Regions from separate parts of the Homo sapiens genome. Here region 2 is linked to region 1. The links come from fine-mapping of genetic effects on gene expression. A gene starts in region 1. The other region holds a variant in brackets. All regions are shown on one strand. Distances are between the middles of the regions.

Region 1 (5,378 bases):
GTTCTAGCATACTTGCTACTCGCTACACAGGAGTGCAGACCGAAGAATGGAGTCGAGTACACCCCTAATTTCCTTTATCAAGGGTTCATATGACAACCTTAGGATATCAAACAACCAAACTCACCTCTTGAAAAAGTTTAAGGAAGCAGACAATTCAGAACTGTCATGGTTTCCTAGCGCAAACTGCAGCAAATCCAGGGTTGCTGACAATATTTTGTCTTATAGATGGATCTCGAATTCCCTGGGTTCGTTTGAGCGCATATAAAACACCTGAAACATATTTGCATGTCCCTTCTTCCCTCCTCCCCAGCCCCCCGGCAAAAAAAAAAAAAAAAGTACACTCAAGCAAAAAAGGGGTATTGGGGCTTCATCCTTTATATATATTGAGGTCTCATGTTGTTATTTTGTGACCTCCACCTTTTTGGTTACCACTTTTTGTTAAGTTTCCTCTTGTCCAATAGACAAATATCTGTCCAACTGACAGATATTTCACCTTGTGAAGTATAAGGGGAAATAATTACAGGAATGAAATCCCTAAAGAAGGTTATGGACTATTATCTCTTGAACATTCAAGATACATAAACCAATCCATCCTCACTTTTCACTGGGGTGATGTGCAGTTTAAAAGTCCTATGCAAGTCCAGAAATAAGAAAATTTCTTCAGGCTAATTTTCAGCCCCTACAGATCTCTAACTCTCCAGAAAAGAGGCTCTCAATCAGTAGTATAAAATCTGCCAGCACATCTCCTAGTGGGCACTATCAGGCTTTCTTCCAAGGTTTCCTACTGTGGTGAAGAGAAAAGCTGACACGGTTACACCCTCCCCAAGCTGCTTAATATCTTGTCAGAACCACCACCATCTCATTTCTGTGACCTTGACACCTGCTAATGACTCTTCCAACCCCTCAGTCCCCACCCTACAAAACCCACATGTTAGTTTCAGGGAAACAGAAAACAGCATCTCTTCACAAGGTTCTGAATGTCAACCAACTGTGGATTACATCATTTAAAAGGAGGACAAAGAAATGGGAAGAGAGCTTCTGTATATAAGTATACAAATACATTTTTTTTTTCTAGAAAGCAGACACTCCATAACCTGAGCTATAAGATAAGCAATTTAAAAAGCAAGAAACTGACTAGGATAACAGATAGAATACTTCAACTGTGGTTAAAGCAGTAATATCATTCCCAGCAGCTGGATGATCAATTTCCAAGCCAGGGTTGCTTTAAACCATAGAAACAAAGTGGTTTTTTGTTTTTCTTTTTTTTAACGTGTAGACCCAAGTTTCACTTACAAAACTGTTCTTAGTGGTCTTTGGCATGGGGCAGACAAAAGCACAGGACAACTAAGTCCTTCTGGAAACCCTAACCCTCAATTCCAAGACATGTGTATATGTAGTTCCATGGTAAAACCTGCAGTTACGTACCAGTGAGTCTCCAATAGACAATGCCTAGCATCAAGTGGCACTAAGAAAGTGGTAAAAATCTGGAAAATCATATAAAGGGAGAAACTTTGGCCCATTTACAGTTTTCCCAAATGTTAAATTAGATATATGCAAAAGTTGAAAACAAAATTTTCCCCTCAAATATAAGGTTACAGAAAAAAGAAAAAATAAATAAAATTTAATCTGAATTCTGAAAAGGTTTTATGCCCTAGAAAGTAACTTTAATTTTGGGAACTAAGATCTACCTCTCTGGTGTCACTTTCCAGGTTTTAAGAACTGTAATCTCTTAAGAGCCCCAGGACTACCTCAGGGAATAAAAAGATAAGAAAAGTTAACATGTCTGCTTCTGAGGTTTCATAAAATCCCAAATACGTGAACCACCTGAAAAGAGGAAAAGTGGGAGAATGTGAGCTCAACAGTACTGGTATTAGAGGAGAGGAAAATTTTACATCCTGCCCAGGAAAGAATTGTTAGCCACTTTAATGCAAGTCAATTTTCTTCAAAGTGAAAAGTACGCCCTCATAATTGAGGGTTATTTATAAGAAACATGAAGCATGTTTCCAATCTGAGAATACTGCATGAAGAAAATAATGCTAATTTTCGACAAATGCAAAAATAAATGTTATTGATCTCTCTTACAAACAGAAAACAAAAAGCACTTCATCTAAATAAACCACTGTGAAAAAAAAAATGGCAACCTGACACCAAAGGGTCGTTTTTAAAACTAAAATGTTCAAATGACAGAACTCAAATAATCTGTCCACAGTAATGCTCGGACAACTCTGAGCAAAATTTCGTATTTAGTCAACTGGTAGGCTCGCTCACTAAAGTAGCAATTACACGCATGAGAAGGAAGGGAATTAAGCGGGCTGAGTGCGGGCTGGGTGATTGTGTTTTGAGACCTGCTCACAGGAAGCCACTACATCCTGCCTTTAGTCCCGCCTGTCACGCCGTCCCTCGATTCAAGTCCCGGCCGCAGCGAGGTGGGGCAAGTACAGGTGTCCCGCCGAGCTCCTCCCGGGGCGCTCACCCGCGAACAGACCGCGCGGTAGCCACTCGGGCCCCAGGGCGGCCCGTTTCCTGCAGCTCAGGGCGCCTTTTTCAACCTCTCCCAGGCTCGCCGAGCCCAGGAAACGAACAGCCCCCTCCCCTCGGGCCAGCCCCACTTCCCAGCCCGCCACCTCCTCGGGCCGCGCCTCCGTATAATTACTGCTCGGCTCCCACCGCGGGGCCACTCCCCAGCGCCCGCAGCCGCGCGAAGGCCTGAGTCTGAGGGCGGCCGGAAGCTCCTCACGCCCCCGGACCGCGCCCCCGGCCGCGCCCCGGACTCCAGCGTCCCCGCGTCCAGGCCGCTCCCCACGACCGAGCCCCTCACGCCGGCGCAGCCCGGGCTCTCCCACCCCAGGCCCATCTCCAGCTCCCACTCCCTCCGGAGAGCAGCAGCCCCGGCCCACGCCGCCCCGTCGAGGCGACGCCGCCCCCCAACACACCCCCTTCCAGCCTCAACCGCGCCCGGCCCAGGCCCCCTCCCGGGCCCGCGATCCCAGCGCAGCTCGGCGCCGCCACCGCCGCGAACCCGCCGCCCCCTCAGCCTCGCGCCCAGCGCCGCCAGGGCGTCCCCTCAGCCCAGCCCCCGCTTACAGATCTTGCCCCGCAGGCTCTGCAACACTCGAACCTCGCGACTGTCCTGGTCCCCGGCCTCGGGCTCTGCAGTCGCACTCGCCGCTGGCGCCTCGGAAGAAGCCGCCGCAGCAGCAGGCGCCGCCGCCGCCATGGTGCCGCCCGGCCCGTGCCGCAGCCCTGCCGCCTGCGTAGCCGGGCGAGGCGGAGCCCAGCAGCGGCCTAGGCCCAGGCCAGCCGCGCGCCTGGCCCCGCCCCCGGGCCTCGGCCCGACTCGCCCCGCCCCGCCCCGCCCGCCGCGGCCCCGCCCCCGCCCCCCCCGGGTCTCCATTCACCGCCTTCGCCACCCCCGAGCCGGGCTACCCTGCAGAGAACCGTACTCCCGGCTTGGGGCGCTGGCTAAGGGTAGCTCCCAGTCGTGGCTCTGAGCGGCCTTAAAATCCCCACCAGGAGAACGCCCCGGCCCTCCCGTGATCCCTAAATCCTCCCGGGAATTGGGCTCCCCCAATGAATAGACCTGCACATCTCCTAACGCTCGCGGGAAATACAGGCCCTTCCCAATCAGGGAAACTCCCTGTGGGAAGAAAATAGAATGGAATTTGGCAGGTGGGTGGACCTCAAAAGTATCTTATTCAAAAGGAGGCAAGAGATGCATTTGAGGCTCTTCCAGTATTATCCAAATACTCCCCGCCAGCAAGCCAAACTCCTCCCACACAAATACTCTTTACTAGGACCAATTCTCTGCAAAACCTGGTTCAAGAAAAGGACCAGCCACCCCCAACTCCAGCGTGAGTGCAGTGCCTGAGACCCTCTCATAGAGAAATTCTGAAGCATTTACCATCACTTTTGTATTTCAGGAACAGAAAAAGCAAAGAAGGGCTCCCCCCCGCCACCGCCACCACTACTAAAAGTTGGCTTTGTTAAAAAGTTGACTGACCCTAGGAAATGTGTAAATCTTTGACTAATTGTTAGCTTTATTTCAAGGGAACTCTTTACAGTGAGTAAACTGCATGAATAATACCCTGGTATGTGATGAGGAAGACAATTTCCTGGTGTTGAGGTTGTTAACTACGCTGCCCTAAGAAGGAAGAAACTGTGACTTAATCGGGCAGGGTAATTCTTTTCCAGGGCAACAACAGGAATAAGCCAGTCAGTCAACAAATATTTTTTGAGGGTCAGACATAGTGATGGCCTCAGACCTCAGAGACTACACAAAGGTCAAGATGAAGAGAGCTCCAGCTCATTCTGGAGGGAGACACAGAAAAGGCCAGAGGCACTGGGAGATAAGAAATAGGACGGGGAAACCTGAAAACTGAAGACAAACGCGCCGCCTGTGCAAAGGCTGGACAGCCCCAGAGAATGGTCAGAGTTTAACATGGACCTGGCCAGCGAAGCTTCCAGTTCTGCCTGTGTTGCAGGTGACTTCTATTTCCCCATGTGATCTTTACACTTGTTGGATAAAGTGAACCACTTCCTCTTATATGAATGTTTTGCTGTCATTTCAAACATAAGTCCAAAACTTAATTTCCTGTCTCCCTTTCCAAATCTGAGTTCACATCTTATACTGTTACTCAGGCCAGAAACTTTGACTTTTTCTTATCCCTTGTCCCAATGCTGTTTTCAGTTGCCACATCCTTCTGACTCTGCTGAAATCTCTTCCTTCCTTTCCATTCTCTGTCATTGCCCTTGTTAAAATTATTCTCATTTAAAGAGTATCAACGTGTTACAGGGTTTTTTCCCCCTTATTTTTAAAGGCATCCCTTTTTAGAATCAGACATAGAGCCTGTTTCTACCCCTTTTACATTTGGGCAAGTTACTCAACCTTCCTAAACCTGTTTCTGTTTCTTCTCTTTCTTTCTTTCTTTTTTTTTTTGACAGTCTTGCTCTGTTGCCTAGGCTGGAGTGCAGTGGCACGATCTCAGCTCACTGCAGCTTCAACTTCCTGGGCTCAAGCTATCCTCCCATGTCAGCCTCCTAAGTAGCTGGGACTACAGGTGCGCGCCACCATGTCCAGTTAATTTTTGTATTTTTGGTAGAGATGGGGTTTTGCCATGTTGCCCAGGCTGGTCTTGAACTTCTGGGCTCAAGTGATCCATCCGCGTCAGCCTCCCAAAGTGCTGGGTGTAAGCCACTGCGCCCGGTTGAACCTGTTTCTTTAACAGTAAAGTGGAAATGCTAAACTTTCTTCTTTGAAGGGTTGTTATTAAGATTAAATAAGTATTGGGAGCAGGGTGTTAAGTGTCTAGTGGAATGCTGAGCACGTAGTAGGATTACCTCAGTAACTGACCTCATGCTTTTGACTGGAACTCTGGTAA
Region 2 (5,378 bases), 62 kb before region 1:
GAGTAAAGACAGAAATGATAATACGACTCATTTCTATTATAGCTGAGCATAAAAAAATAAAGAAAGAAATTTTGAAACTAGCCAAAGAAAACACAAGCCAAGATAATTCTGGGTTTTAATGTTGGGTTGAGGTACAGTCAGATTTTCCCACTGTACATACTGCTTAAAACTTACCCTTCTCAGGCTAAACCTCAAAATGATATCTGACACGGCATTTGCAGTTTACTATGCACTTTCACAAAATGCACCTAATTCTCACAACTGCCTTTGAGAAGAGAATTATGCCATTTAAAAGAAGTAAGGCTCACAGGTTATGTGAGGAAGTTACAAGGTAAGGCTCAAAGAGGTAGCGTAACTTGTAAGAAGCTGGCCAAGACTCAACTTCTACTTTTTAATTTTGTTACTGAAGTCCAGTGCCCTTCTACATTCCCACTGTGCCCCCAAATACAATATTACTGTCCTTGTAATACCACATTTATCTCACATAAACACCAATTATGAGAAACCTTAATGACAGAAATCCAATTTTCTATTTTATGAGGTATAAAAAAAAGCAGAGGAAAATGCAGTACTGACTTATAAAAAACTTATGAAACGATAAGAATACCCACAAACCAAAACACGGATGCCCATAAACCAGAAGTGCACCCTACAGAAATCATCAGTACTCTTAATTTTTAAATATAAAACAGTTAAAAATTGAGTTTTCTGCAAAACTTAAGTAATATTATTAAATATAGGTTATTCATTACATATATTTGGAAATATTATTTTTCTAATTACCTAGCATAGCACTGTTCTTCCAATCTGTAAGTAAGCAATTTCATATCATAAATCATGGATGGGCAGAAAACAAATGTTGAAAATAACCTCAATAAGGAATTTGATATTTTATTTATATGTGACATATAAAGCATTTACAATATAGTATCTAAAATTTACAAAGGTAAGAAAATATTATAAACAGTTCAGAATAAGACTGATCTGATTCTTTTCTTTGGATTTTTTTTTAAACTAAAAGAAAATTTTAACTTCTACATCCAGGTAAGATGGAGTAACAGGAACTAGATTTACTCTCCACCCAAAACGAATTGAACAAAATCAGCAGTGAAGGACAGGTGAGCCCTCCAACTGCCCCAGCTTACAGCTAAATGGTTTCTCTGAGAAGAAGAGGCAAAGCTGTCAGCAGGAGGAGGTCAAAGTGACTAGGGACCCCAGGGCAGAGTACTAAAGGGAAGAAAGTTGCACAGAGAAAGAAAAACCTCCAGGGAGCTACAAGAATCCCCACTGAGTATTCAGCTGAGTATTGATACGTGTATATATGAGGAAATCATCTGAGGCTGGGGAAAGAACCATTTGAAAAGAATAGAGGCAATAGTTCCTAAAACCCACACATGGCTAGCAAGAGGTACCATCAGCCACAGTAGAAAACCTGGTAATTCATGGGTACTGCCTTAATAGTAGGAAAACATAAGCCCTCCAGTAAAGACTGTGCTTGTCTGTTTAACAAAAGTTAAAAGTAAACCACAAAAGGATCAAACTGTTTCTAAGTAACTTAACCAAGTGCCGAACAAAGCTCAAGTACATTCATAGAAATATTAAAATATCCAGCAACTTCACAATGTCTGGCATGCAACAGAAAATAACCAGGAATGCAAGGAACTAAGAAATTATGATCCATAATGAAAAGAAAAATCAATAGAAACAGAATCAGAAATGACAAAGAAGACAGAACTAGCAGACAAAGACATTTAAAAGTTATAATTATATTCCATATGATCCATCCAGACACAGAAGACAATAAAAATGGAAAAATCTAGAGATGAAAAACATACTGAGCGGAATTAAACATTTGCTAAGACTTTGGGGGAGGAGTTGGATAGACATGAGAATCAGTACTTCAGTTTTTGAGACAGAGTCTCACTCTGTCGCCCAGGCTGGAGTGCAGTGGCGCAATCTCGGCTCCCCGCAAGCTCCGCCTCCCGGTTTTACGCCATTCTCCTGCCTCAGCCTCCCTGTACTTCAGTTTTAAATGTGTTAAGTTTGCAATGTGATTCATCAAAGTAGACATATTAATCTGAAACTCAGAAAACAGACCTGGGTTGAATGCACAAGGTACAGGCAATTTTAAAAACCTTATTTTGAAATAATTTCAGATATTCAAAAAAGCTGTTAAAATAATAGTTTCTGTATACTCATCAACAAATGTTAACGTTTTGTAGAACCACAGCAGAATTACTGAAATCTGTAGCCCTTACTCAAATTTCACCAATGTCCTTTTTTGATCTAGGACACAATACAGGATCCCATAGTGCATTTAGTTGTCATGTCTTCTTATTCCTCTCCATCCTGAGACAGTTCATTAGTTTTCCTTCTTTGCCCCGTGATCTTGCCAGTATTGGCCAGTTATTTTGTAGTGTATTCCTTAATCTGAGTTTGTCTGATGTTTACTCATGATTAGGTTGAGGTTATGTATCTTGGTGTCCTTCTCAATGCATCCTATTGGGAAGTACTGGATGTCTCATTATTGGTGATGTTAACTTTGATCACTCAATTAAGGTGGCATCTATCAGACATCTTGTCACCACACTTATGCTCACTTAGCATCCATAGATGATTTTTTGAATTGTCCCCTCACCCACTTATTATTGTGATGTTTGCCAATGTTGATTTTCATTTCCATCATTCCTCCTACATTCATTAACTAGAATTCTACTATAGGAAAAATCAGTCCTTTCTCCCTACCAAGTATTTGAGTTTTTAATTGTTTATTTGTACCAGTATTCGCTTATATTTATTTTATTCTAT[A/G]AGTTTTAATCCACTATTATTATTTATTCTGAAGCTCAAATTGTTCCAGATTTGGTAATTTGAAGTCCCTTTACATTGGCTTCAATGTCCTTTTTACATATCCCCATTATTTTTTAGCACTTTCTTACTTTTTGAGACCCCAAGATGCTCCAGACTCATCTCATATTTTCCCTGCCCAAGTCCTGAAATAAGCTACTGCTAAAAAGGAGTCCAGGTTCTTTTACTGAAGCTGCACTAATGCTGTAGTCATTAGCCATGTGTGGTTTTTTACATTTAATTAAAATTAAATAAAATTAAACTTCAGCTCTTTGGTCACATTAGCTGTATTTCAAGTTTTCAATATCCACACATGGCTAGTGGCTACTGTTTTGGACAGTGAAGATACAAAGCATTTTCCACATCACAGAAAAATCTACTGGAGAGTGCTGACTGGAGAATTGCAAACACACACACACACACACACACACACACACGCACACACACACTCATACACACTCCTACCACTATTTTTCCCTAGAGAAGTCTGCCTTCAAAGGAGAGCAGAGGAATGGGAATGATAAAAAGGACTGGGGTATGGGTGGGCAGAGATGAGGTCTGGGGAGGCATGCCTTTTAGGACAGAGATACTAGACCATGTTTATTTGTGGTGAGAACCATGTAGGAGAGAAGGTAAAGCTGACAAAACAAGAAAAAGAAGGCATAACTGAAGGAGCAAAACTCATTAAGTAGAGGAAATAAATGGAATCCAGAGCTCAGATGGAAGAATTCAATGTCAAGAAAAGGAGTACCTCCTCTGCTCTAAGGACAAAATTATGGATGCAAATTAGGTTTATAGATTTGGATTCAGGAAGATGTAAGCAATTTCCAGGCTGTGGTGGTAGAGAATCTTATAGCTGTATTAGAGAAGCACAGTTAAATTCCAGGGCAGATATAAGTGCCCATGTGAGGCCTGTGATGATAAATTTAAAGTGAAATCAGCCTACATGATTTTCTCCAGCTATATTCATGTGCAGATTGAACACAGAGGAAGAGGTCATTTTCAATTAGAGTTTTTCCAGATAAATAAGAATGATGAGAACAATAGGGGAGTTTACGGAACCTGCGAGAAAATGACTACAGCAATAGGTCACGGAAAAAGATGTAGAAAGAAGTGAAAACAGGAACACAGTGAAGATCAATGGATGGCAGGGAGGTCTCACTAAAGTTCAAAAAATGTTGTAGTGGGGACTTTCTAGGTCTGGAGGATAATAGTAACTACTAGGATATGAATCTTCCCATACATTACTCCCCCAAAACCAAAGTCCAGCAAGAAGCACAAAGAAAGCCATATGTGAAACCATGCCTTTAGCAATACTAAAAAACAGAGAATGTCATGAATTTCAGAATATCTATAAGGATGAGAAATCAACAATAAATTCCATAAAGCTACCACTGGAACTCTGCTGCTACAAGACAGTGAGTATGGAGAGCAAAAGCTTAAGAAACTTTGAAAAAAAGAATAAATGGAAAAACCTAGAAGAAATGGATAAATTCCTGGACATATACAACCTACCAAGATTGAACCATGAAAAAATCCAAAACCTGAAGAGACCAATAACAAGTAATGAAATTGAAGCCACAGTAAAAAGTCTTGCAGCAAAGAAAAGCCTGGGACCTGATGGCTTCACTGCTGAATTCTACCAAATATTTCAAGAAGAACTAATACCAATCCTACTCAGCTAGTCCAAAAAATAGAGAGGGGAACACTTCCAAATTCATCCTATGAGGCCAGTGTTACCCTGATACCAAACCAGAGAGAGATACATCAAAAAAAGAAAACTATAGGCCAATATCCCTGATGAACCTTGATGCAAAAATCTTCAACAAAATATGAGCAAACCCAATTCGACAACACGTTAAAAAGATCATTCATCATGACCAAGTGGGATTTGTCTCAGGGATGCAAGGATGGTTCAATATGTGCAAATTAATCAGTGTGACACATCATATCAACAGAATGAAGGGCAAGAACCATATGATCATTTCAACTGATGCCAAAAAGTATTTGACAAAATTCAACAGTCCTTCATAATAATAAAACCCTCAAAAAATAGGTACAGAAGGATCAAACCTCAACACAATAAAAGCCATATAGTACATATCCATAGCTAGTATCATACTGAATGGGGAACAACTGAAAGTCTTTTCTCTAAGATCTGGAACATGACAAGGATGCCCACTTTCACCACTGTTATTCAAGTCCTAGCTAGAGCAATCAGACAAGAGATAGAAATAAAGGCATCCAAACTGGAAAGAAAGAAGTAAAATCATCCTTGTTCACAGATGATATGATCTTATTTGGAAAAAACCTAAAGACTCCACCAAAAAACTATTAGAACTGATAAACAAATTTAGTAAAGTGGCAGGATTCAAAATTAACACAACAAAAATCAGTGGGGTTTCTGTATGCCAACAGTGAACAATTTGAAAAATAAATCAAGAAAGTAATACTGCTTACACAATAGCTACAAATAAAACAAAATAGCTAGGAATTAACCACAGAAGTGAAAGACATCTATAATGAAAACTGTA

What was found. PIP is the estimated chance that this variant, and not a neighbour inherited with it, causes the effect.
Region 2: its variant is the best candidate, but not a certain one, in a credible set for the expression of RASA2 in whole blood (INTERVAL, PIP 0.72).

The regions. Positions count from the first base shown.
Region 1 is chr3:141,484,923-141,490,300 of GRCh38, reverse strand. RASA2 (RAS p21 protein activator 2) reads right to left here and starts at 3,274. Exons shown (of 24, transcript NM_006506.5): 1 at 3,085-3,274. The coding sequence starts at 3,217. RefSeq lists a silencer at 2,486-3,365.
Region 2 is chr3:141,547,388-141,552,765 of GRCh38, reverse strand. All of the region lies in intron 5 of RASA2 (RAS p21 protein activator 2), which reads right to left. Among named protein-coding and RNA genes, the nearest start is that of RASA2-IT1, 25 kb to the right of the region's middle. The variant A/G (reference allele first, on the strand shown) is at 2,809.